7 linked regions of the Homo sapiens genome follow. The protein of the gene in region 1 purifies or fractionates together with the protein of each later gene. This does not show direct contact. Each region holds a gene or a part of one and is shown in the gene's direction. Other genes may lie near its edges.

Evidence for each region.
Region 2: the proteins of ITGB8 (region 1) and EDC3 purify together in Homo sapiens (affinity purification with mass spectrometry; one large-scale study listed by BioGRID and IntAct). This does not show direct contact.
Region 3: the proteins of ITGB8 (region 1) and POGLUT2 purify together in Homo sapiens (affinity purification with mass spectrometry; one large-scale study listed by BioGRID and IntAct). This does not show direct contact.
Region 4: the proteins of ITGB8 (region 1) and TARS3 purify together in Homo sapiens (affinity purification with mass spectrometry; one large-scale study listed by BioGRID and IntAct). This does not show direct contact.
Region 5: the proteins of ITGB8 (region 1) and L2HGDH purify together in Homo sapiens (affinity purification with mass spectrometry; 2 studies listed by BioGRID and IntAct, with this or other methods). This does not show direct contact.
Region 6: the proteins of ITGB8 (region 1) and ACTR3C purify together in Homo sapiens (affinity purification with mass spectrometry; one large-scale study listed by BioGRID and IntAct). This does not show direct contact.
Region 7: the proteins of ITGB8 (region 1) and RAP1B purify together in Homo sapiens (affinity purification with mass spectrometry; one large-scale study listed by BioGRID and IntAct). This does not show direct contact.

What each region holds. Positions count from the first base shown.
Region 1 is NC_000007.14:20,413,577-20,416,254, forward strand, and holds the end of ITGB8 (integrin beta-8 precursor), read left to right. Parts: 3' UTR 1-2,178; downstream 2,179-2,678. UniProt on the Homo sapiens protein: Integrin alpha-V:beta-8 (ITGAV:ITGB8) is a receptor for fibronectin. It recognizes the sequence R-G-D in its ligands.
Region 2 is NC_000015.10:74,689,525-74,693,024, reverse strand, and holds part of EDC3 (enhancer of mRNA-decapping protein 3), read left to right. Parts: intron 1-6; exon of another isoform or gene 7-139; intron 140-3,500. UniProt on the Homo sapiens protein: Binds single-stranded RNA. Involved in the process of mRNA degradation and in the positive regulation of mRNA decapping. May play a role in spermiogenesis and oogenesis.
Region 3 is NC_000013.11:102,783,781-102,786,378, reverse strand, and holds the end of POGLUT2 (protein O-glucosyltransferase 2 isoform 1 precursor), read left to right. Parts: intron 1-39; coding exon 40-147; intron 148-1,866; coding exon 1,867-1,884; 3' UTR 1,885-2,098; downstream 2,099-2,598. UniProt on the Homo sapiens protein: Protein glucosyltransferase that catalyzes the transfer of glucose from UDP-glucose to a serine residue within the consensus sequence peptide C-X-N-T-X-G-S-F-X-C. Can also catalyze the transfer of xylose from UDP-xylose but less efficiently.
Region 4 is NC_000015.10:101,682,974-101,686,473, reverse strand, and holds part of TARS3 (threonine--tRNA ligase 2, cytoplasmic), read left to right. Parts: intron 1-411; coding exon 412-578; intron 579-2,236; coding exon 2,237-2,399; intron 2,400-2,857; exon of another isoform or gene 2,858-2,959; intron 2,960-3,500. UniProt on the Homo sapiens protein: Catalyzes the attachment of threonine to tRNA(Thr) in a two-step reaction: threonine is first activated by ATP to form Thr-AMP and then transferred to the acceptor end of tRNA(Thr).
Region 5 is NC_000014.9:50,249,730-50,253,229, reverse strand, and holds part of L2HGDH (L-2-hydroxyglutarate dehydrogenase, mitochondrial isoform 1 precursor), read left to right. Parts: intron 1-3,500.
Region 6 is NC_000007.14:150,317,046-150,320,545, reverse strand, and holds part of ACTR3C (actin-related protein 3C isoform a precursor), read left to right. Parts: intron 1-3,500. UniProt on the Homo sapiens protein: May play a role in the suppression of metastatic potential in lung adenoma carcinoma cells.
Region 7 is NC_000012.12:68,617,399-68,620,898, forward strand, and holds part of RAP1B (ras-related protein Rap-1b isoform 1 precursor), read left to right. Parts: intron 1-3,500. UniProt on the Homo sapiens protein: GTP-binding protein that possesses intrinsic GTPase activity. Contributes to the polarizing activity of KRIT1 and CDH5 in the establishment and maintenance of correct endothelial cell polarity and vascular lumen.

The sequences.
Region 1 (2,678 bases):
TCAAGCTTAATAAGCCTAATAGTGAAAAATAACTGAATTTAATGGTATAATGAAGTTCTTCATTTCCAGACATCTTTAATTGATCTTAAAGCTCATTTGAGTCTTTGCCCCTGAACAAAGACAGACCCATTAAAATCTAAGAATTCTAAATTTTCACAACTGTTTGAGCTTCTTTTCATTTTGAAGGATTTGGAATATATATGTTTTCATAAAAGTATCAAGTGAAATATAGTTACATGGGAGCTCAATCATGTGCAGATTGCATTCTGTTATGTTGACTCAATATTTAATTTACAACTATCCTTATTTATATTGACCTCAAGAACTCCATTTTATGCAATGCAGACCACTGAGATATAGCTAACATTCTTTCAAATAATTTTCCTTTTCTTTTATAATTCCTCTATAGCAAATTTTTATGTATAACTGATTATACATATCCATATTTATATTTCATTGATTCCAAGACATCACTTTTTCAATTTAACATCTCTGAAATTGTGACATTTCTTGCAACTGTTGGCACTTCAGATGCAGTGTTTAAAATTATGCTTGAATAAATATTACACTAATCCAACTTTACCTAAATGTTTATGCATCTAGGCAAATTTTGTTTTCTTATAAAGATTTGAGAGCCCATTTATGACAAAATATGAAGGCGAAATTTAAGGACAACTGAGTCACGCACAACTCAACATGGAGCCTAACTGATTATCAGCTCAGATCCCGCATATCTTGAGTTTACAAAAGCTCTTTCAGGTCCCCATTTATACTTTACGTGAGTGCGAATGATTTCAGCAAACCCTAACTTAACTAACAAGAATGGGTAGGTATGTCTACGTTTCATTAACAAATTTTTATTATTTTTATTCTATTATATGAGATCCTTTTATATTATCATCTCACTTTTAAACAAAATTAACTGGAAAAATATTACATGGAACTGTCATAGTTAGGTTTTGCAGCATCTTACATGTCTTGTATCAATGGCAGGAGAAAAATATGATAAAAACAATCAGTGCTGTGAAAAACAACTTTCTTCTAGAGTCCTCTTACTTTTTATTCTTCTTTATCATTTGTGGGTTTTTCCCCCTTGGCTCTGATCACTTTAACTTCAAGCTTATGTAACGACTGTTATAAAACTGCATATTTAAATTATTTGAATTATATGAAATAATTGTTCAGCTATCTGGGCAGCTGTTAATGTAAACCTGAGAGTAATAACACTACTCTTTTATCTACCTGGAATACTTTTCTGCATAAAATTTATCTTTGTAAGCTAACTCTATTAATCAGGTTTCTTCTAGCCTCTGCAACCTACTTCAGTTAGAATTGTCTAATACTGCTCTATTAATCAGGTTTCTAGCCTCTACAACCTACTTCAGTTAAAATTGTCTAATACAGCAATATTTAAAAAAAAAACACTGCAATTGTCAAGGATGGAAAATGTGTGATTTGTGTAAACAATTTTTACCAACTTTACATTTTCCTACAGATAAATGTGAAATTTTGATAAGAAGTCTACGCAATGACAAGTATGGTACATAAATTTTATTAAGAATATTGAGTATAAAGTACTTTAATTCTAAATTATAAGAAAATATACATTTGCACATATTAATATAGAAATTCATTTTGTGTATATTTAACATAGCTTTTAAACTATTTTACATTAGCTACTTCATTATGGTTTCTTGAACTTCTGAAAAAAATTAGAAATGTATTAAACTTATCAGTAACATAAAAACTTATTTTGTTTCACCTAACGAATACTGCGTTTGTAAAAATAAATTTAATATAGAATATATTTTTAAATTAAATATTTGAATATAAAATAGCTCTAAGAAAGAAGCAAATTATCACTGAACATATTTCTTATTATTTCTGGCTTTGAATTATACGTAACTTAAATTGTCTTAAATGATACAGAATATTGGAGAATATGATACTTTCACATAATATACTATGAACCTGTTCATATAACTCTGATTGACTACTAACTTCTGTTTTATGTATTTATTAAAGAGCTGACACTGTAGTTTGTGGTGAGATGTTTATTTTTCTAACAGAGCTTATAACAGTTAGGACAAGGCATTTAATTAATGCATCATTCTGTTTAGTAGTAGGTGTTAATCAATATGAAATTCTCTGTTTTAAAATAAAAATGTAAAAATCTAAGAATATGCAAAACGCTTCCTTATTTACTTTGTGTTACATTAATCTCAAAGCTTCCAGACAACAGTACTTTGTCCCCCAAGGAAATGTAATAGCATCTATACACTGTCATTAGCAGAGGACATTACATAATTCCAAAAAGATATTACTCCTAGAAAATTGTAGGGCCAATGATAAACAGGGGAGGCCATCCTAGTTGTTCTTTTCCTTTTTGATAGTTATTTGCAGTAGAAACAGAAGAAATATTCTAATGACAAAAACCTGAAAAAAATAGCTAAAAGTTAAAACAGGCATTTTCCATGTGCCAGAGACTTCTACCACCACCTTAGGTGTGACACATTCATAACCTTCAATTGCACATTCTCAAGAGTCAGGCTTAAATTAATTGAATTTTATTGAATACCCATGTATTGTGATTTTTCTTACCCTAGAGAAGAGAATAAAGCAGAATGTGGTAGATACTGAGATCAGCTCAGTCGTGGAGACCCTAACCCAGCGGCGCC
Region 2 (3,500 bases), on another chromosome or scaffold:
TTTCAGGCTTTCAGGTATAGGCTGGGTCACTAGTCTTAAAACATTTCTTCTTGAGAATGTCTAAAAGACTGTGGAATCTGTTAGATCTTATATACTTTTAAGTTGGCACCTGAAACTTTTCATCCTAGATTTACATAGTGTAAGTATTTAATTTTAAATAGTTTAGGATGTAATTTCTGACAAGTAAATATTGACTTCTTAAAAATAAATATAAAATTACCTAAATACAATATCAATTTGATGTTGTAAAAACATACAACTAAACTTTTGAAACAAAGACTGTAAGAAATACATAACATAGCTTATTACATTACTTGATTTTCAGATGTTAAACCCATCTTGCATTTGTGAAATGAACCCTGCTTAGTAATGTATCTACTACTTTTTACATATAGATGGATTCAATTTGCTAACATTTTGTTAATTTTTGTGACTGTGTTCATGATGGATATTGGTCTGAGGTTTCCTTTTTTTTATGTCATCTTTGGCCTTAGTAGCAGGGTAATTATGACCTCATAAAATGAATTGGGAAGTGTTCCTTCCTCCTCTGTTTTCTGAAATAGTTTGTGTAGGATTGGTATTATTTCTTACGTGTTTCATAGAATTTACCAGTGAAGTCCTATGGGCCTGGGTTTTTCTCTCTGGGAAGATTTTACTAATTCAATTTCTTAATATAGTTAGTTGAGTTAGTTTTGGTCATTTTTATCATTTTGGGAGTTTGTCCATTACATATTTTTCCTTTTTCTTTTTGAACTTGTATCCATTCCACTTTTCCCACAGAATTTTATCCTAAAGCAAAAGTCAACTTTCTGTCAAAGGCCAGATGAAAGGCTTTATGGGCCACATGGTTTCTGTGATTACTGCTTAATTCTCACTGTAGTGAGAAAACAGCCATAGACAATATGTGGCCGGGTGCGGTGGCTCACGCCTGTAATCCCATCACTTTGGGAGACTGAGGCAGGCGGATCACGAGGTCAGGAGATCGAGACCATCCTGGCTAACACAGTGAAACCCCGCCTCTACTAAAAAATACAAAAAAAATTAGCCGGGCGTGTTGGTGGGCGCCTGTAGTCCCAGCTACTTGGGAGGCTGAGGCAGGAGAATCGCTTGAACCCGGGAGGTGGAGGTTGCAGTGAGCCGAGATCGCTCCACTGCACTCCAGCCTGGACGACAGAGCAAGACTGTCTCAAAAAAACCCAAAAAAACCCAGAAAATAGCCGTAGATAATATGCAAGTATTTTTGTGTAGTTGTGTTCCAATAAAACTTTATTGGTAGCAGACCAGATCTGGTTTAGGGCTGTAGTTTTCCTACCCATCCTAAAGTAATAAATTTTATGCCTGAAAATTTAAAATTGATCATCTAGTTATCCACACAGATCAGGTTTATGAGAGTAGCATGGAAGTTGATTCCCTTGCTTGCATATCTTTGTGTACCCCCTACGGACATGTGTATTCCAGTGTAAAGACCAGGACTTGATTTCCAAGATGTTGTAGAGGGAATTCATGTATTTTTGTAATTTTGTTTGGGTGAGAAGTGAGGTGGCCCTCACAGCGCCATAACTTAAGTTCCCTATGTGATCGGTATTCTTTCTGGCAAAAGGAGACATTTGAACTAAAATTTTTTATGTTGTAGACACTATATGGATTATCTCATTTAATCTTAAAATAATCCATATAGTATCTTAAAATAATCCATATAGTATCTTAAAATAATTCATATAGTGGTTCTATGAGATAGGTGTATAATTGGCATAATTCCCTACAGATGAGGCAGTTGAGACTCAGATTAGGTAATTTGCCCAGGTCGTAGTGCTGGTTAGTAAGGAAGTTCAGAAGTGAACCAGGGGCTGTGATGTCTGATTTCATTTTTTTCTTTTTTTTTTTTTTTGAGACAGGGTCTTGCTCTGCCACCCAGGCTGGAGTGCAGTGGTGCAATCTTGGCTCACTGCAACCTCCGCCTCCCAACACTTCTGACTAATTTTTTGTATTTTTTCTAGAGACAGAGTTTTGCCATGTTGCCCAGGCTGGCTTTGAACTCCTAGGCTCAAGCGGTCAGCCCTCCTTGGCCTCCCACAGTGCTAGGATTGCAGACACTAGCCACCTGAGGCGTGAGCCACCACACCCAGTGTGATTTCAGAATTTTATTCTCTTTTCACCGTGCTGCCTTTTATGGAAGATATGGGTTTAGTACTGGATTTAGATAGGGGATTGTGCTGGATTTCTTTTTCTGAGGCGGGGTGGGGGTGGAAACAGTCTTGCTATGTTGTCCAGGCTGGTCTGAAACTCCTGGCCTCAAGTGATCCTCCTGCCTCAGCCTCCCAAAGTGCTGGGATGTAGGGCCTGAGCCATCATGCTGGGTTGCATATTTTCTTTTAAGATCTCTGCCTTTCCCAATATTTTGATTAAACAAACACCTTTCCTGTTGTGTGGAACAATTCCTAGTTTTTCAGAAATCTATAACTACTCACTCATCCACAGCTGTTAATTATAATTGTTTTTAGCAGGCCAAGGGTTGTTTATTGGATCTGAATGCTGTGAGTTGTCTGATGTGGCACAGAGATGGAGGTAGCTAGATTTGTAATTGGCAACTTGTTTATTTGTAATTTATGGATCATTTGGGCGCTGCCTTAGTAATATAATAGATGGAAGAGTGTTTAGCGCTACCTGACTTTGTTATCCAAAGGCTTATCAGAATAATGATAAAGTCCCATTACTTATCTGGCATTCAGTAGTCTGGAAATCCTGATAGTTCAGCATTTGAGCAAAATAGTCCCATAATTAAAAGTAATCTGGAAAATCTTGATTATGTCACATCTGTGGCTCCCTTCCTAGCTACACAGATTGTTAGGATAGATTTTAATAACAAGTTGGCAAAATAAGTGTTGGTTAGCTAGCTGCACAAACATTGCATTTTTTTGAAATATTTAACATTGTTGAATACTACACAGAAAAATTAGTTTTTTTTAGAAGTGGAATTGTTTGAAGGATTTATTGTCATGAATAGGCTTTACAGGGAAGATGTATTTTTTTTTATTGTACATCAAATCCTGTCAGCAAACTTACACTAGTAATGTATTAATGAGATGAAGGATATTCCAAAGTAGCTAGATTTGTAATTGGCAACTTGTTTATTTGTATAAGAACAAAGTGGTAAATGAATTAAAGTATTCTTACCTGGAGGTGTTTAAGAAATGGAGGCAGGGCCGGGCGCAGTGGCTCACGCCTGTAATCCCAGCACTTTGGGAGGCCGAGGCGGGCGGATCATGAGGTCAGGAGATCGAGACCATCCTGGCTAACACGGTGAAACCCCATCTCCACTAAAAATACAAAAAATTAGCCGGGCGCGGTGGCGGGCACCTGTAGTCCCAGCTACTCAGGAGGCTGAGGCGGGAGGATGGTGTGAACCCAGGAGGCGGAGCTTGCAGTGAGCTGAGATAGTGCCACTGCAGTCCGGCCTGGGCGAAAGAGCGAGACTCCGTCTCAAAAAAAGAAAAAAAAAA
Region 3 (2,598 bases), on another chromosome or scaffold:
TGTTTTATAAGGAATGCTTTTATATTGTTGCTTAAACAGGAATATGCCAATTTACAAGTGAGTGAGCCCCAAATCCGAGAGGGCATGAAAAGGGTAGAACCACAGACTGAGGACGACCTCTTCCCTTGTACTTGCCATAGGAAAAAGGTAACCAGAACTGAGCTTATGGCCGGTGTCAGAGTAAAAACTAACATTGATCCAAACTTGCTTTTATTCCTATAGTCATTCAATCAGGCAGCAAATATTTGAGTTCCTCTCGAGGTCTCCAAGCAATTCAGTCTGCCAGAGAGATAGGTATAAAAGATAGCAGTGCTCAAGAAAGGATGCTACAATGCAGTTAATTGAGAAGACATGGTAGCTCCCTGGCAAAGTGGGGGGAAGTCTTTTATAATGTGAGAATCCAGCTCACACCCTATTTGAATGGATGCTTACAGTCTGAAAAATATTTTCATGTGTATCATCTGATGCCCTCATCTCCTCATGAGATAAGTTTGGCAAAGTTCATCATCCCAGTTTAGAGAAGGAAAAATATGTAACCACGATTATTAATGTTTTCCAATTCTTCATTTGAAAGTCATCTCAGTTGATACCACTACATAAGGATCTCATTGATAAAAATGAAAGTCAGATTCACATCTGGACTTTTAAGGTAGAAAGGACCTTAGAAGTCATCCAGTAAATGCCTTCATTTTATGGTTAACAAAACTGAGCCCAAAAAGGAATTGTGCTCAAAATCATCTAGCTGGATTATAGCAAAGCAAAAACCAATCTCTCATCATCAGATTGTGATTGTGTGTGCTTGTATATAAAGCTATAGTGTGGCAGGGGACTGTTGCTTTGATTATGATTTTTGTTTGTTTGAAGGAATGTAAATTGCATAAACTAGAGTGTGTGTGTGTGTGTGTGTGTGTGTGTGTGTGTGTGTGTAACATATGCTGACTTAACATTTTAGGCAACATAATTAGGTTTCTGAATGGACAAGTTCAAAATTGTGGTATTATAACCAAAGACAAGAAGGCAGATTTGGCAATTATTATGTCTACCTCTCAAGGAGGTGTAAAAGGAATTAAGGTGAGGCTGGCCCCAGTGATGTGACAGAACCAGCTTATATGAGCTCACTGATAAATATTCAGGAATTTTGCATACTAGTTAAATTTTTGGTAGCTTGGAATCATCCTGATAGGAGTATTTACACCATGACAATCAGCACATGCTACAAATCAGAATTTTGGCTGTTTTATTTTTGTCTTTGTTTTTTATAGAACTCATTAACCACTAACCAACTGGCCCTCAGAGGTGGTTCGTCATCATTGTGAACTCTGTCAGTGCTCCAAGGCCATAAAAATCAGTTAAAACCAATGATAAAACAAGAATTGCCAAATCGAAAGGTTCCCCCTCACCAATCCGTGATTTGGTATCAGAACACTTCTCACTTTGGCTCTAAGTGAGACTGGCAGCTTCCTTGCTCCACTCCTGCTCAGTTATTTATCTTCATCTACGTGATTGAGAGGAGGTACCCAGCCAGTTTCTTCCACTGAGTAGTAGAAGTTAGGGGCCAGAATGATAGCTTCGTTTATTTTTTGCTCATTGTCTATCCTAGTCTTTCACCACTACTGTTCATAACATGAGGCCTTTACAGTAGTACAGCCCATGGATGTTTGGGTTCCTTATCAGTAGGCTATGAAACACAATGTGATTTTACCCTTAGCTGACTCTGGGCCTCTGGAAATAGTCCCAAGCCCTAAAAGCCTCTAGCAGCAGCTTGGCTCCCTCTCATCTTTACAGGAAAATAATTAACGAATGTAAGTCTTCTTCACTTGTGTAAGACTTCTTGATAGCTCTAAATATTTTGCTTCTTAATTGCAGACCAAAGATGAACTCTGATATGCAAAATAACTTCTATTAGAATAATGGTGCTCTGAAGACTCTTCTTAACTAAAAAGAAGAATTTTTTTAAGTATTAATTCCATGGACAATATAAAATCTGTGTGATTGTTTGCAGTATGAAGACACATTTCTACTTATGCAGTATTCTCATGACTGTACTTTAAAGTACATTTTTAGAATTTTATAATAAAACCACCTTTATTTTAAAGGACTACGTTGTGCTAATTATTAGCCGTGTTTGGAACAGAGAGCAGTAAAAACAGAGAGAATCTGGGTCCTTAATGCACAGCAGCCCAGACCACCTGCCCAGACTGGTTTTAAATGACAAAGCAATGAACCCCTGTCTCCTTTTAAGCCCATATTATTGTGGGTATTCAGCCAAACTTAATTCTAGCTAATACTTCGTACAAGGCCAGTCATTAGATGGCCTCTACCTGCATCTTTAGTCAAATCTCTCAGCACTTTCTAGTATCAATACTGTCCTCTGGAAGAACGAGTCCTCTCCCAGTTCTGTCAATGCCTGTGTCCTTACCTTCCTGGCTCTTGCCTTTCCCTTGTCCTGGAATGTCTTGGCCCTCTTTTCTTCAACCGGCTTACACATCCTTCAGCACATATTTTATCCTTACTAGATTTTAAGTGCCATGACCTCAGAGACCAGGCCTTTCTTCTGGGTAGTCCTAACGTCTAATAGAGTGCCAGCAACTAGAAAGA
Region 4 (3,500 bases), on another chromosome or scaffold:
AAAACTAAATAAATCAAAATTATAACATGCAACATGGCATTCAGGCTTATTAAATTATAAATTTTTTCTGCCTCTTAATAGGAAAAAACCTGTTTAGAAGGACTTTGGAGTAGTTACAGTGAGTTTCTATATATATTGTATTTCAATTACTACTTTTCAAAGAACTAAAACATTATATACTATATACTGTTATATGCTATAAAATAAATATACTCAATAGAAATTATACTAAGCATATGTAAATCTTTCTTCCAAGATCCAGAAACCACCACACCTAAAACTGAGGGTACATTAATCATGAATTAATATAGGACATGAGCCCAATTTGAAAATATTTGCTCATAGTGTTACTTTGCATGGAATTGTGATCTGCCCTAGCAGATTTTAATGTTGAATGCATGTATCTTGAAGGAGGAATATCACAAACGGGACTTCACGGAGGTGCTCTCTCCCAATATGTACAACAGTAAACTCTGGGAAGCCTCAGGCCACTGGCAGCATTACAGCGAGAACATGTTTACCTTTGAGATTGAAAAGGACACTTTTGCCCTCAAACCCATGAATTGTCCAGGGCACTGGTGAGTATTAAAAGCGAAGCAGACCTTTTCATGAGAGCACATAGCACGCTTCGTCACAATTATCTTTTAATGCTTTGTGGAATGAAAGAGTCCCTTTAATCTGAAGAGTGGTGATTACTAATTTTTACTAAGTTGTTTCATTCCGGAGAATGGATTTACTTTTGAAAATATATTTGATCTTTGGCAGGTATGGGATGTTAGCTGGTAACCATTGCATTTTTTTGTGCTGATTAAAGGATAATGTTATGTGTCAATTTTATAAGTTTTATAATATTTGTCTTTCTTATAGTAATGCACTTCACATGTTCATATTTGCAGAATATTTAGTTCTTTCATACTGTTTGGGTGGATTATAACAAGATCAATGAGGTCATAATCAATGGGTTTCTGGATTTCACTGATTCCAAGATACCATTTTTCTTCCACATTTCAACATTTCTGAAGTTGAAATGCATCTTATAGTTGGTGGCATCTTAGCATTATATCATAATTTAATTAATAGGTTATTTTCTTTCTTTGTAGCACATAAAATGAAGATACATTTTACAATCAATGCTGTCTTTGATTCTATGAAAGACTAATTATCATAAAGTTGGTATGCAAATTCAACCTTGTAAGACAAACATATTGTACAACTGAAACTGAATAGGCATAATTGTCCACAAAAAACAATCCCAACAATTGTAGTTTTTGTATTATCAACATACATAGTTTCAAGTAAATTTACCTAGAAGATAATTATTAAAACCGGTAACTGAACACTGAAGAAAGCTCTTTGCCCTTTTAAGTGAAGATGAGAAGAAATTTAACTTTATGATGATGTCATGTAAAAAATATATATAACTTTAATTTTAGGAACACCGGTATGTAAACATTCTGTATCCTCTCTTTCTAAACAGAAGGTAGAAGCTATGCTAGTGTTTTGCATTGTAAAACACTTGTGTTAACAATTTCTTAACTCATCTTCTCAAAGGCATCCTTTAAAATTATAGCCTCGTACTTTATAATGAAAGTAGAGAATTTAAGTTTGTCTTTTTACACCTCAGAATAAGAAAGCAAGACCACGGTGGCTTAGAGGCAATGGGATATGGAAGCTAGGAGTGCTTTCTGCAGGAGAGAAGTCTTTCATTCAACAGAGAACATAGTTGAGTGCTTTTTGTGCTTGGAGCTAGAAGTGCAGAGGTGATTAAGACACAAACCATTCCCTCATGGAACTCATGAGCAGAGTGGGCAGGGCCATGCATGTAGACAATCTGTTATAAAAAGACCAGTGCCATAATGATGGCATGTTTGAGGTGTTCCAGGAACGTGAGGAGAAACTGCCTAGCCCTGTCTGGGAAATGTCTAGGAGGGCTTCATTTAAGAAGTAGCCTTTGAAATGAATCATAAACAGTAAATGGTGATTCACTGTGTGGATAAGGGGAGGGAACAGCATTTCTGGGAAGAGATAATAGACAAGCATCTTTCTCAGAGTGCTGCAGTGATGTAAATGCAAGGTTCACTAATTTGTGGAAGAATTTTTTTTTTAACCTGGTGATCTAAGAACTAGAATAAGGAGTTTATGAATCTTGAGGCTTAATTGTAATTTCTTTATATTTAGATAATTATTTAATATTTCTGTGCTGTGTAAAAGCTGTGTGTTACCACATCTTTTCTAGTCTAATGTTTGCCCATCGTCCACGATCTTGGAGGGAAATGCCTATTAGATTTGCTGATTTTGGAGTTCTGCATAGAAATGAACTGTCGGGGACTCTCAGCGGCTTGACCAGAGTGAGGCGCTTCCAGCAGGACGATGCTCACATTTTTTGCACAGTGGAGCAGGTAAACAATAACACAGAGTGAAGCAGTGTGGTCACAAATTGAGTGTGATGCCCCGCACACATCTTGTATTCTTTCAGAGTTACTGAAACATAGACGTTTGGTCTAGTCTCTGAGATTCATTCAGCTCTAACCTGCTGTGATTCTCTAAATTAGGTCAATAGATTAATCATCTCTTGACATGAAATATATTCCTTCAGTGATTTTATTAACCTAAATTCCATTAAGTGGAGTATTTTAAGGGATTTGGTGGAATTCTGGATGTTTTGTTTTTCAGTATCGCCTAGAACTTAAAATTTACTTTTTCAAGTTTTTGTGTTAATTCAAGTTAAAATTGCCATGCAAAGTTTCACTGTCAAACAATTTGACCTAATTGATGTTTATATAACAACAGCAGAATATACATTCTTTGGTTTCATGTTGGATGGGTAATGTGCCAGTGTTGTATCCAATGTGCTTCATGTGGGGTGGGTAATATGCCAATGTTGTACCGAGGTGTGAGGGAGGTACATCTTACACATGTGTGTACACCCAGTCATCACGCTTATGAACTACAAAAAGCTCAGAGTATTTGTTCTTTGAAATTGCACGTAGAATATTTACTAAAATAGACCATATTCTGGACCATAAAACAAGTCTCAGTGAGTTGAAAGGGATGCAATTAAAATAAAATGTTTAATTAACCCTAATGTTTAACCCTAATCCTAACTGACCACAATAGAATTAAAAATAGATAACACAAAATCCAAAGGAAAATTAGACAATTTTATATAACAAATGAAATAAAAACACATCAAAATTTGTAGGATGCGATTTAAGTGGTAGAGGGATGTTTATAGCACTGAATACCTGCATTAGAAAAGAAAAATCAATGACTTAGCTTTTACTTAAGATAGAAAAAGAAGAACAAATTACACCCAATGTAATGGAAGCAAAAGAAAGAAAATAAGAAAGAGCAGAGCAGAAATCACTGAAATAGAAAATAAAGAGTAAAAATAAAACAAAAGCTGGTTCTCTGAGAAGATCAATAAAATTGATAAACCTTTAGTCAGACTGATGAGGGAAAAAAGACAAATAAAAATGTCAGGAATGAGACAGATGTCA
Region 5 (3,500 bases), on another chromosome or scaffold:
TGATTGTTTCCTTTGCTGTGCAAAAGCTTTTTAACTTGATGTGATCCCATTCTGGATCATATTGTTTAATTTCTATGTGTTTATATAATTTCCAAAATTCCTCTTGTGATTGATTTGTAGTTTTATTCCATTGTGGTCAGAGAAGATGCTTGATATTATTCCAAATTTTTTGAATGTTTTAAGACTTGTTTTGTGATCTAACATATGGTCTATCCCTGAGAATGATCCATGTGCTGAGGAGAAAAATGTGTATTCTGCAGCCATTGGATGAAATGTTCTGTAAATAACTATTAGGTCTATTTGTTCTGTAGTGCAGATTAAGTCTGACATTTCTTTGTCGAGGTTCTGCCTGGGAGATCTATCCAATACTGAAAGTGGGGTGTTTAAGTCTCCAGCTATTATTATATTGGGGTCTATCTCTTTAGCTCTAATAATATTTGCTTTGTATAGCTGGGTACTCCAGTGTTGGGTGCATATATATTTACAATCATTATGTCCTCTTGCTGAATTGACTCCTTTATCATTATATAATAATCTTCTTTGTCTCTTCTTACAGTTTTTGTCTTGCAGTCTATTTTGTCTGATATCAATATAGCTATTCTAGCTATTCCTGCTCTTTTTTCATTTCCATTGTCATGGAATATCTTTTTCCATCCCTTTATTTTTAGTCTCTTTGTATCTTTATAGGTGAAGTAAGTTTCTTTTAGGCAACAGATCATTGGGTCTTGTTTTTTCATCCATTCAGCTACTCTATGTCTTTTTGACTGCAGACTTTAGTCTATTTACATTCAGTGTTATTATTGATAAGTAAGGACTTACTCCTGCCATTTTGTTATTTGTTTTCTGGTGGCTTTACAGTCTTCAATTCCTTCTTTGCTTTCTTCCTATCTTCCTTTTAATGAAGGTGATTTTTCTCTGATGGTATGTTTTAATTTCTTTCTTTTTGTTTAATTTTTTGATATCCATTGTATGTTTTTCTATTTTACCATGAGGCTTGCAAATACTATCTTATAACCCACTATTTTAAACTGATGACAATACTGATTGCATATGCAAACAAACACACAGAAAGAAAACTAATAAAAACTCTACACTTTAACTTTGTTCCTTGGCTTTTAATTTTTTTTTTTTCTCTTTATATCTTATTGTACTGTCTGTGTCTTGAAAAGTTGTTGTAGTTACTATTTTTGATTGGTTCATCATTTAATCTTTCTATGTAAGATGAGAAGTTTATACACCACAATTATAGTGTTATACTATTCTGTGTTTTTTATGTGTGCTTGCTGTTATCAGGAAGTTTTGTACCTTTATATGATTTCTTCTTGCTCATTAACATCCTTTTCTTTCAGATTGAAGAACTCTCTTTAGTATTTCTTGTAGGACATATCTAGTGTTGATGAAATCCCTCAACTTTGTCTGGGAAAGTATTTCTCCTTCATGCTTGAAGGATATTTTCACTGGATATACTATTTTAGAGTAAAAGGGTTTTTTCCTTCAGCACTTTAAATATGTCATGCCACTCCCTCCTGGCCTGTAAGGTTTCCACTGAAAAGTCTGCTGCCAGACATATTGGAGCACCATTGTATATTATTTGTTTCTTTTTTCTTGCTGCTTTTAGAATTCTTTCTTTATCCTTGACCTTTGGGAGTTTGATTATTAAATGGCTTGAGTTAGTCTCTGGATTAAATGCTGTTGGGGTTCTATAATCTTCTTGTACTCAAATGTTGATATCTTTCTCTAGGTTTGGGAAGTTCTCTGTTATCATCCCTTTGAATAAACTATTTACCCCTATATGTTTCTGTACCTCCTCTTTTAGGCCAATAACTCTTAGATTTACCCTTTTGAGAATGTTTTCTAGATTTTGTGGGCATGCTTCATTGTTTTTTATTCTTTTTTCTTTTGTCTCATCTGACTATGTATTTTCAAATAGCCTGTCTTTCAGCTCACAAACTCTTCTGCCTGATCAGTTCTGCTATTGAGACTCTGATATATTCTTCAGCATGTCAGTTGCATTTTTCATTTCTAGAATTTCTGTTTAATTCTTTTTAATTATTTCAATCCCTTTGTTAAATTTATCTGAAAGAATTGTGAATTCTTTCTGTGTTGTCTTGAATTTCTTTGAGTTTCTTCAAAACAGCTATTTTGAATTCTCTGTCAGAAAGGTCGTATATCTCTGTTTCTCCAGGATTGGTCTCTGGTGCTTTATTTAGTTTATTTGAGGAGGTTATGTATTCCTGGATGGTGTTGATGCTAGTAGATGTTCTTTGGTGTCTGGGCATTGAAGAGTTGGGTACTTATTGTAGTCTTCACAGTCTGAGCTTGTTTGTGCCTGTCCTTCTTGGGAAGGCTTTCCAGGTATTCAAAGGGACTTGGGTAACAAGCCCAATAACATTGTGTCTTTTGTAGACTTGTAGAGGTACCACCTAAGTGGTCTTGGATAAGATCCAGAAGAATTCTCTGGATCACCAGGCAGAGACTCTTGTTCTTTTCCCTTACTTCCTCCCAAATAAATGGAGTCTCTTTCTGTCTGTGCTAAACCCCCTGGAACTGGGGGGTGTGGTGATGCAAGCACTCCTGTGGCCACCACCACTGGGACTGCACTGGGTCAGACCTGAAGCCAGCCCAGCACTGGGTCTTGCCCAGGGCCCTTCCCTTCAGGGCAGTAAGCTTCCTCAGGCCCCAGGCGTGTCCAGAGATGCTGTCTGGAAGCCACAGATTGGGGTCAAATACTTTAGTAGTTTACCTGATGTTCTGTTCTACTGCGGATAACTAGCACTCACACTACAATACAAAGTTCTTCTCACTCTTCCCTCCCCTTTCCACAGGCAGAGGGGCCACTCCCTGTGGCTACCACCACCTTTGGTCCACAGGGTTTCTGCCAGGCCACCACCAATATTCACTTAAAGCCCAAGGGCTCTTCCATCAGCTTGTGGTGAAAGCTGCCTGGCCTGGGACTTACCCTTCAGGGCAGTGGGCTCCCCTCTGGCCCAGGGTAGTGCTAGAAATGCCGTCCAAGAGTGTTGGCCTGGGCCAGACACGGTGGCTCATGCCTGTAATCCCAACACTTTGGAAGGCCAAGACGGGTGGATCACCTGAGGTCAGGAGTTCGAGACCAGCCTGGCCACCATGGCGAAACCCCATCTCTACTAAAAATACAAAAATCAGCTGGGCGTGGTGGAGTGCACCTGTAATCCCAGCTACTTGGAAGGCTGAGGCAGGAGAATCGCTTGAGCCCAGGAGGTGGAGGTTGCAGTGAGCCGAGGTCACGCCACTTCACTCCAGCCTGGGCAACAGAGCGAGACTCTGTCTCACAAAAAAAAAAAAAAAAAAAAAAAAAAAAAAAAAAAGGAGTGTAAGCCTTGACTTGGGGACCCCAAGAACCTGCTTGTTGCTCTACCTCACTGTGGCTGAGCTGGTACCTAAGGTGTAAGACAAAGTCCCCTTTACTTTTATCTCTGCTTTTCTCAAACAGAAGGAGTCTTTCACTGTAGCCACCACAG
Region 6 (3,500 bases), about 130 Mb from region 1:
AGTGATCCACCCACCTCAGCCTCCCGAAGTGCTGGGATTACAGGCTTGAGCCATGGCGCCTGGCCTGGAAAAAGGCATTCTTAATTTAAACTATATTTTGCTCTAAAGATAATAGTCCACTCATAAATTCTTTCTGAAATTAATTGCACAAGAGAATAACAATACAGATAGTCTGTCACAAGCCGATCACAAGCCTTTGTAATAAAATACACTATTCTTAGCTCTAATATCCTACACAAACAAGCATTACATTTGAGGTAGGGCGTTCTTCCTCTTGCTTCCTGAGGATACCCTACTCTAATAGATTAGTTTCTAATAAACCATTTAAACTTTACTGTACTTTGCGACTCACCCTAAATTCTTTCCTGTGCAAGATCCAAGAACCTGCCCTTGGGGTCTGGGGTGAAACCCCTTTTCTGGTAAGAGTACTGTTACATGGGATCCACACTATGGGCTCAGAGTTGGTCCCTTTCCAGCGTTAATCCAGAAACACTCTAAAACAAGGAGTTTCTTACTCAAAAGAGGGCAAAAGACCAGTCAGGGATGGATTGGCAGAGGAAGAACGGAAGGAAATGCTGATCTTCCTGTAGGTACAAAACTTGTCACTGCAGCCAAGCCAAGTTTCAGGAGGGTTGACCTAAAATCATCTCGTTTTGCTAGGTGTTTTACAAAGGATAAATAGGACTGGCTCCTGCCCCTAGAGCTTCCAGATACAGCATCCCTGTTTGCCCTGTTTGCAGGGGTGACAGAAAGTGGGAAGTAGCTACATTAGCTGCTAACTCTGTCTCGGGTCAGGGGAGAGGTTGGTAGGGTTAGCCCCAACAGTGTTTTAAAATGCAGAGTAATTGTCAAGACTGGAGTCTGGGCAAACAAACAATAAATAAATAAATACAAAGTAATTGGATGGACAAAGTGCTTTGCCTCCATCTTCCCAAAGTCAAAGGCACCTGAATTTGCCATCCTGCCCTAACTCTTCCTGGACCATTTCATAGCCTTGTGGAATGTCAGAGCTAGACAGACCCTTAAGAAGTTTGTTCTGGGCCAGGCGAGGTGGCTCATGCCTATAATCCCAGCACTTTGGGAGGCCGAGGCAGGCAAATCACCTGAGGTCAGGAGTTCAAGACCAGCCTGAGAAACATGGAGAAACCCCGTTTCTACTAAAAATACAAAATTAGCTAGGCATGGTGGTGCATGCCTGTAATCCCAGCTATTCGGGAGGCCAAGGCAGGAGAATCGCTTGAACCTGAGAGGCGGAGCTTGTGGTGAGCCAAGCTCACGCCATTGGACTCCATCCTGCCTAGGTAACAGAGTGAGACTCTGTCTCAAAAAAAAAAAAAAAAGAAGAAGCAATTTTACAAATGCTGTGCAGTGAATAAATTTCAGAGTCACTCGACTTGGAACCGGGGATTTTCCCAGTAGAGTGTACACTTTAACTCTTAAATTGCCTAAATTGACAAGACTTGCTCAGTAATAGACTGGGTAAAGATTAAATCCAAATTTTTGTCTACAGCCCAGGTATCTTCCTACTTCAGCAGTGTTTTGGGATGTAGAAGAACCTGGGAAACTTGTTTGAAAATGCAGAATACAGGGCCCACACCCATTATGTGGGTCTGGAAGAAGCCCAGAAAATGACTTTTAAAATAAACCCCTAAGGGAGTGAAATGCATGAGAATCACATGGTTTATGTAAGCTTTTGAGAAACACTGATCTAAAGCAAATTTTTGGGCTCACGGGCCCCCAGAAGAATCTTGAAAAACTCTGTATGTTCTTTGTTTTGTTGTTGTTGTTGCCATTGTTGTTGAGATGGAGTCTCACTCTGTCACCCAGGCTGGAGCGCAGTGGTGCGATCTCGGCTCTTCGGGTTCAAGCGATTCTTCTGCCTCAGCCTCCCGAGTAACTGGAACTACAGCTCTGCACCACCACGCCTGGCTAATTTTTGTATTTTTAGTACAGATGGGATTTCACCATATTGGCCAGGCTGGTCTTGAACTCCTGATCTCGTGATCCGCCCACCTTGGCCTCCCAAAGTGCTGGGATTACAGGCGTGAGCCACCGCAACTGGCAACTCTGTATACTTTAAAGTTGGCATCTTTATTAGTTTTCCAGGACTGCAGTAAGAAAATACCACAAACAGGGTAGCCTAAAACAACAGAAATGTATTGTCTCACGGTTCTGGAGGGTAGAAGTCTGAAATCAAGGTGTTGTACTCTCTCTGAAAGCTCTAGGAAAGACTCTGTTCCATGTCTTTGTCTTAGCTTGTGGTGCTCCCAGAAATCCCTCGTGTCTTTTGGCAGAGATCAGACCACTCCATAATGATCTCTGAGCACAGACAAAACAAGAACATTATCCAAACCGCAGGAAACCTCCCCATCCTGGCTGATACAAATGACTAATGCTTTTCACCGTCATAGCTTTAGCCTCACTCTATTCTTCTCGTCTTCTCCATAAGAATTATCTAAAATATACACAATTATAGAATTGCCCCTACTTCCCGACATCATCCCATTGAGAGGAAATCCCCATTTTCTTGCAACCTCCCCCAAATCTACTAAAACAAGCCCTGTCCTATAAAGAGTCCTTTTTAACACCCTCTTGTGAGACATCCCATAGTTCCTTTTGGTTTACTTTCCTCCTCCTTGCAAGGAGCCGATAAACCCAACCCCATTCAACTGCAGATGTGTTCTTGGTGGTCATAGATTTAAAGAGAAAAGTCATAATCCATTTCCTCAGCTACTGGAATGGATTCAACAAAATTCAATATCCATCTGGATAATAACTAGATTGTAGTGAAATAGAAATAGATGCCTATTTTCTTAGCATGATCAGATATATCCACCTCAACCTCAAAGATAGTATAATGCTTAAATGGAAAACATGAAATGTATTCCTGTTGAATTCAAGAATAAGATAATCACATATACTATTACCATCATCATTTAACGTTGTTCTGGTGGTTTAGTCAACACCACTAGTTAAGAGAGAGAAATTAGAGGCTTATTAACTGGAAAATAGGTAAAATTATCATCATTTCAAGTGACTTGATTGCATAAGTGAGAAACACAAAATAATTAACTGACAAAATTTACTACAGCTAATAAAATAATTCAGTAAGGTGTGTGGGTTTAATATTAATAAATGGGAATCAAAAGCCGCCATCTATGCAAACAACCACCAGTTAGAAAATACAAAGGAAGGCTGGGCGCAGTGGCCTACACCTGTAATCCCAGCACTTTGGGAGGCCACCAAGGCAGGCAGGTCACTTGAGTCCATAAGTTCGAGACCAGCCTGGCCAACATGGAGAAACCCTGTCTCTACTAAAAATACAAAAAATTAGCCGGGCATGCTGCACGCCTGTAATCCCAGCTACTTGGGAGGCTGAGACATGAGAATCACTTGAGCCCAGAAGGCAGAGGTTGCAGTGAGCCGAGATCACGCCATTGCACAACAGAAGGAAACTCAATAAATAAATAAATGAAGGAAAGAAGGAAGGAAGGACTCCA
Region 7 (3,500 bases), on another chromosome or scaffold:
TCTTGAATTGAGGGATAGGATGAGATATATAACATATGTTATCTGTTGTTTTCTCCTACTGCTCTTGAAATTAACAAACTTGAGATAGTGTACTGATTTGTATTTATAAGATTGGCTGAGTTCAAATATGTCTTTTTGACGTTCTTACCAATGTTTAAAATATAGAAAAGTATAAAGAAGAAAATGAGTATCATCCGTAATGCCATCACTACAATGACTTTTTTAAAGCAAAATGTGTACTTTCCTTCTGAAGCTTTCCAACCTCCTTGCCTCCTCAGTGAGAATGATGACATACTGTTGTTAGAGTTGTTGAGGATCAAATGCAGTATTACTCATGAATGTTTCATAAACCATAAAATAATACAGTAATGTACTATTTTTTTTTTTGACAGCCTCACTCTGTCACCCAGGCTGGAGTGCAGTGGCACAAACTTGGCTCACTGCAGCTTCAACCTCCCAGATTCAAGCCATTCTCCAGCCTCAGCTCCCCAAGTAGCTGGGCCTACAGGCGCATGCCACCATGCCCAGCTAATTTTTGTATTTTTTGTAGAGACGGGGTCTCACCATGTTGCCCATGCTGGTCTGAACTCCTGAGCTCAAGTAATCTGCCCGCCTCCACCTCCCAAACTGCTAGGATTACAGGCATGAGCCACCATACCCAGCTGTATTAGTTCTTGTTCTATAAAGCTTTTTTTTTTTTTTTTTTTTTTTTTGAGGTGGAGTCTGTCGCCCAGGCTAGAATGCAGTGGCACAATCTTCGCTCAGTGCAACCTCTGCTCCCAGGTTCAAGCAATTCACCTGCCTCAGCCTCTCGAGTAGCTGGGATTACAGGCATGCGCCACCACGCCTGGCTAATTTTTTTTGTATTTTTCTTAGAGACGGGGCTTCACCATATTGGCCAGGCTGGTCTCGAACTCCTCACCTTGTGATCTGCCCGCCTCGGCCTCCCAAAGTGCTGGGATTGCAGGCGTGAGCCACCTTGCCTGGCCCTATAAAGCTTTTATTCTCCTATGGCATTGCTTAAGAATCCCATTAAAGTATGAATAAGGACTAATAAATAATTGTGAGTTTTGATTAGTGTAACAAATGAATTACCTAGATCAGTATTTTCAAGGTATGGTCCAAGGAATCCTGGAGGTCCCCTAGACATTTTTGGCGAGTCTACAAGTGCAAAACTATTTTTATAATACTGAGACATTCTTTGCCGTTTTCTTTGTAGTGACATTTGTACCTGTAGTATAAAAACAGTGGTGGATAAAACTTCTGGCGCTTTAGAATAAACCAGGTTAGAGTACTTCACTGTCCTAGTAATCATTGTATTATTCACTGCCATGCACTCAGATTTTTTTTTAAGTTTCACCTAAATGCTCTTGATGAAGAAGTAAAAAAATTTTAAACTAAATCTCTACCTTTGTACACATCTTTAATATACTGTAACAAAATGGGAAGTATGCTTAAAACACTGGCGAGGCCATGGACAGCAAGCCTCCCAGCACTTTGGGAGGCTAAGTCCAGCTTGGGCAATGTAGTGAGAGCCTGTCTCTCCTATTAAAAAAAAAAAAGTTAGTGTGGTCATGCACATCTACAGCTACTCTGGAGGCTGAGGTGGAAGGATCTCTTGAGCCCAGGAGTTGGAGGCTGCAGTTAGCTGTGATCGTGCCACTGCGCTTCAACCTGGGTGACAGAGCAAGACCCTGTCTCGAAAAACAAAACAAAAACACTTGGCAGCATACTGAAATATAATGGTTGTTTCTAGGGAAAGTATTTGTGTGATTGAGTCACACGCTGAATCAATCTTCATATAATGCCATTTTTGCTTAAAAGAATGCCAGACTTGGGCATTAGGCTGACATTTTCTTGAAAACAGTGAGGCTTTGCTTTAGGGAAAATAGTGGTAGTATTTATGGTCGATGATAAAGTTCCTAGATTTTAAGCAAAAATTTTAGAAAGCTTGTATCAGCTGCTGTAAGTATATAATGAAATCTGTCATTATTTGATTATCTGCATAACTGAGTCAGTATTTCCAAATGATCAATGCATAGTATTATAAAAATCATACATGGGTAAGAAATCTTTACAAAGTGTCAGCTAGACCAATGGATTTTAATGTTATAGAGAACATAAAAGTTTATCAATAAGGTATCCTGTTCCATATTGCAACCAATTGCTGAGCTTTGGTGTAGTGTCAAAGACCAGTATCCAGATTTATCTGAAAATGCTATTAAAATATTCCCAACTGTCTAATGTATTTTGTATTACTTATTTTTCCATGCTTTGCTCTCAGTGTTTAATGTCTTCTTTGATTTATTTTGTTTATATTTTTGTTGGAAACAGGAATGGGAGCCATAGATAAATGTGAAGCAATGTTTTCATGTGCTTTATCTTAAAATCTCCTATTAATATATAATCAGTTTAACTTCTTTGTAGTCTTCTCTGTGCATTCCATTCAACTTTTGGTCTTGGTAATGGATTAGATAATAGTTATTTTTAAGCCTATTTTTGGTTTTAATATTTGTTTTGTATACCTGACTGCTCATCTATAGACAGAATTCCCTTGTGTCCAAAGTCTAACATAATCCTTAAGTAGATTTTTAGTAGTTGACTTTCTCAGTTTTAAAATATTTGATAACTTTTCCATAGTAAAGCTGTAAGTTTCAAGTTTAGTAATGTCTTTTTGACCTGAGAATTTGGTGTGTTGTCTTACCTTAAGTAGACACTTTTCAAAAACACACCTGTAGAATGATCCTTTTTTTACCTTTCAGGAGAATGCTGTTTCTTGGTGGTGGTGGTTTTTTTATTTTTTTATTTTTTTTTATTTTTATTTTTATTTTTTTTAAGACTGAGTCTCTCTATTGTCACCCAGGATGGACTGTGGAATGCAATGGTGCAATCTCAGCTCATTGTAACCTCCTCCTCCCAGGTTCAAGCGATTCTCTTGCCTCAGCCTCCCAAGTAGCTGGGATTGCAGGCACCACCACCATGCCTGGCTAATTTTTGTAGTTTTAGTAGAGACAGGGTTTCACCATATTGGCCAGGCTGGTCCCGAACTCCTGACCTCAGGTGATCCGCCCACCTCGGCCTCCCAAAGTGCTGGGTAGAGCCACTCTGTGGCCTTCTTTTTTATGTTAATTTAAAAACATTTGTAGCAATCCTTGTTAAACTGTTTTTATAAACTCATGGGATAAGTCCAAATTTTATTTTCCTTTTCTTTTTTTTTTTTTTGAGACAAGGTCTCACTGTCATCTAGGCTTGAGTGCAGTGTCACAACCACGACTCACTGAAGTCTCGACCTCCCGGGCTCAGTTGATGCATCTCAGCGTCCCAAGTAGCTGGGACTACAGGCGCATGCCACCACACCCAACTAACTTTTGTAGAGACAGGGTTTTGCCATGTTGCCCAGGCTGGTGTCAAACTCCTTGGCCTAATCGGTTCTTCCACCTCAGTCCTCCAAAGTGCTGGGATTACAGGAGTGAGCCACCGCACCGGTCTGGTTCCACATT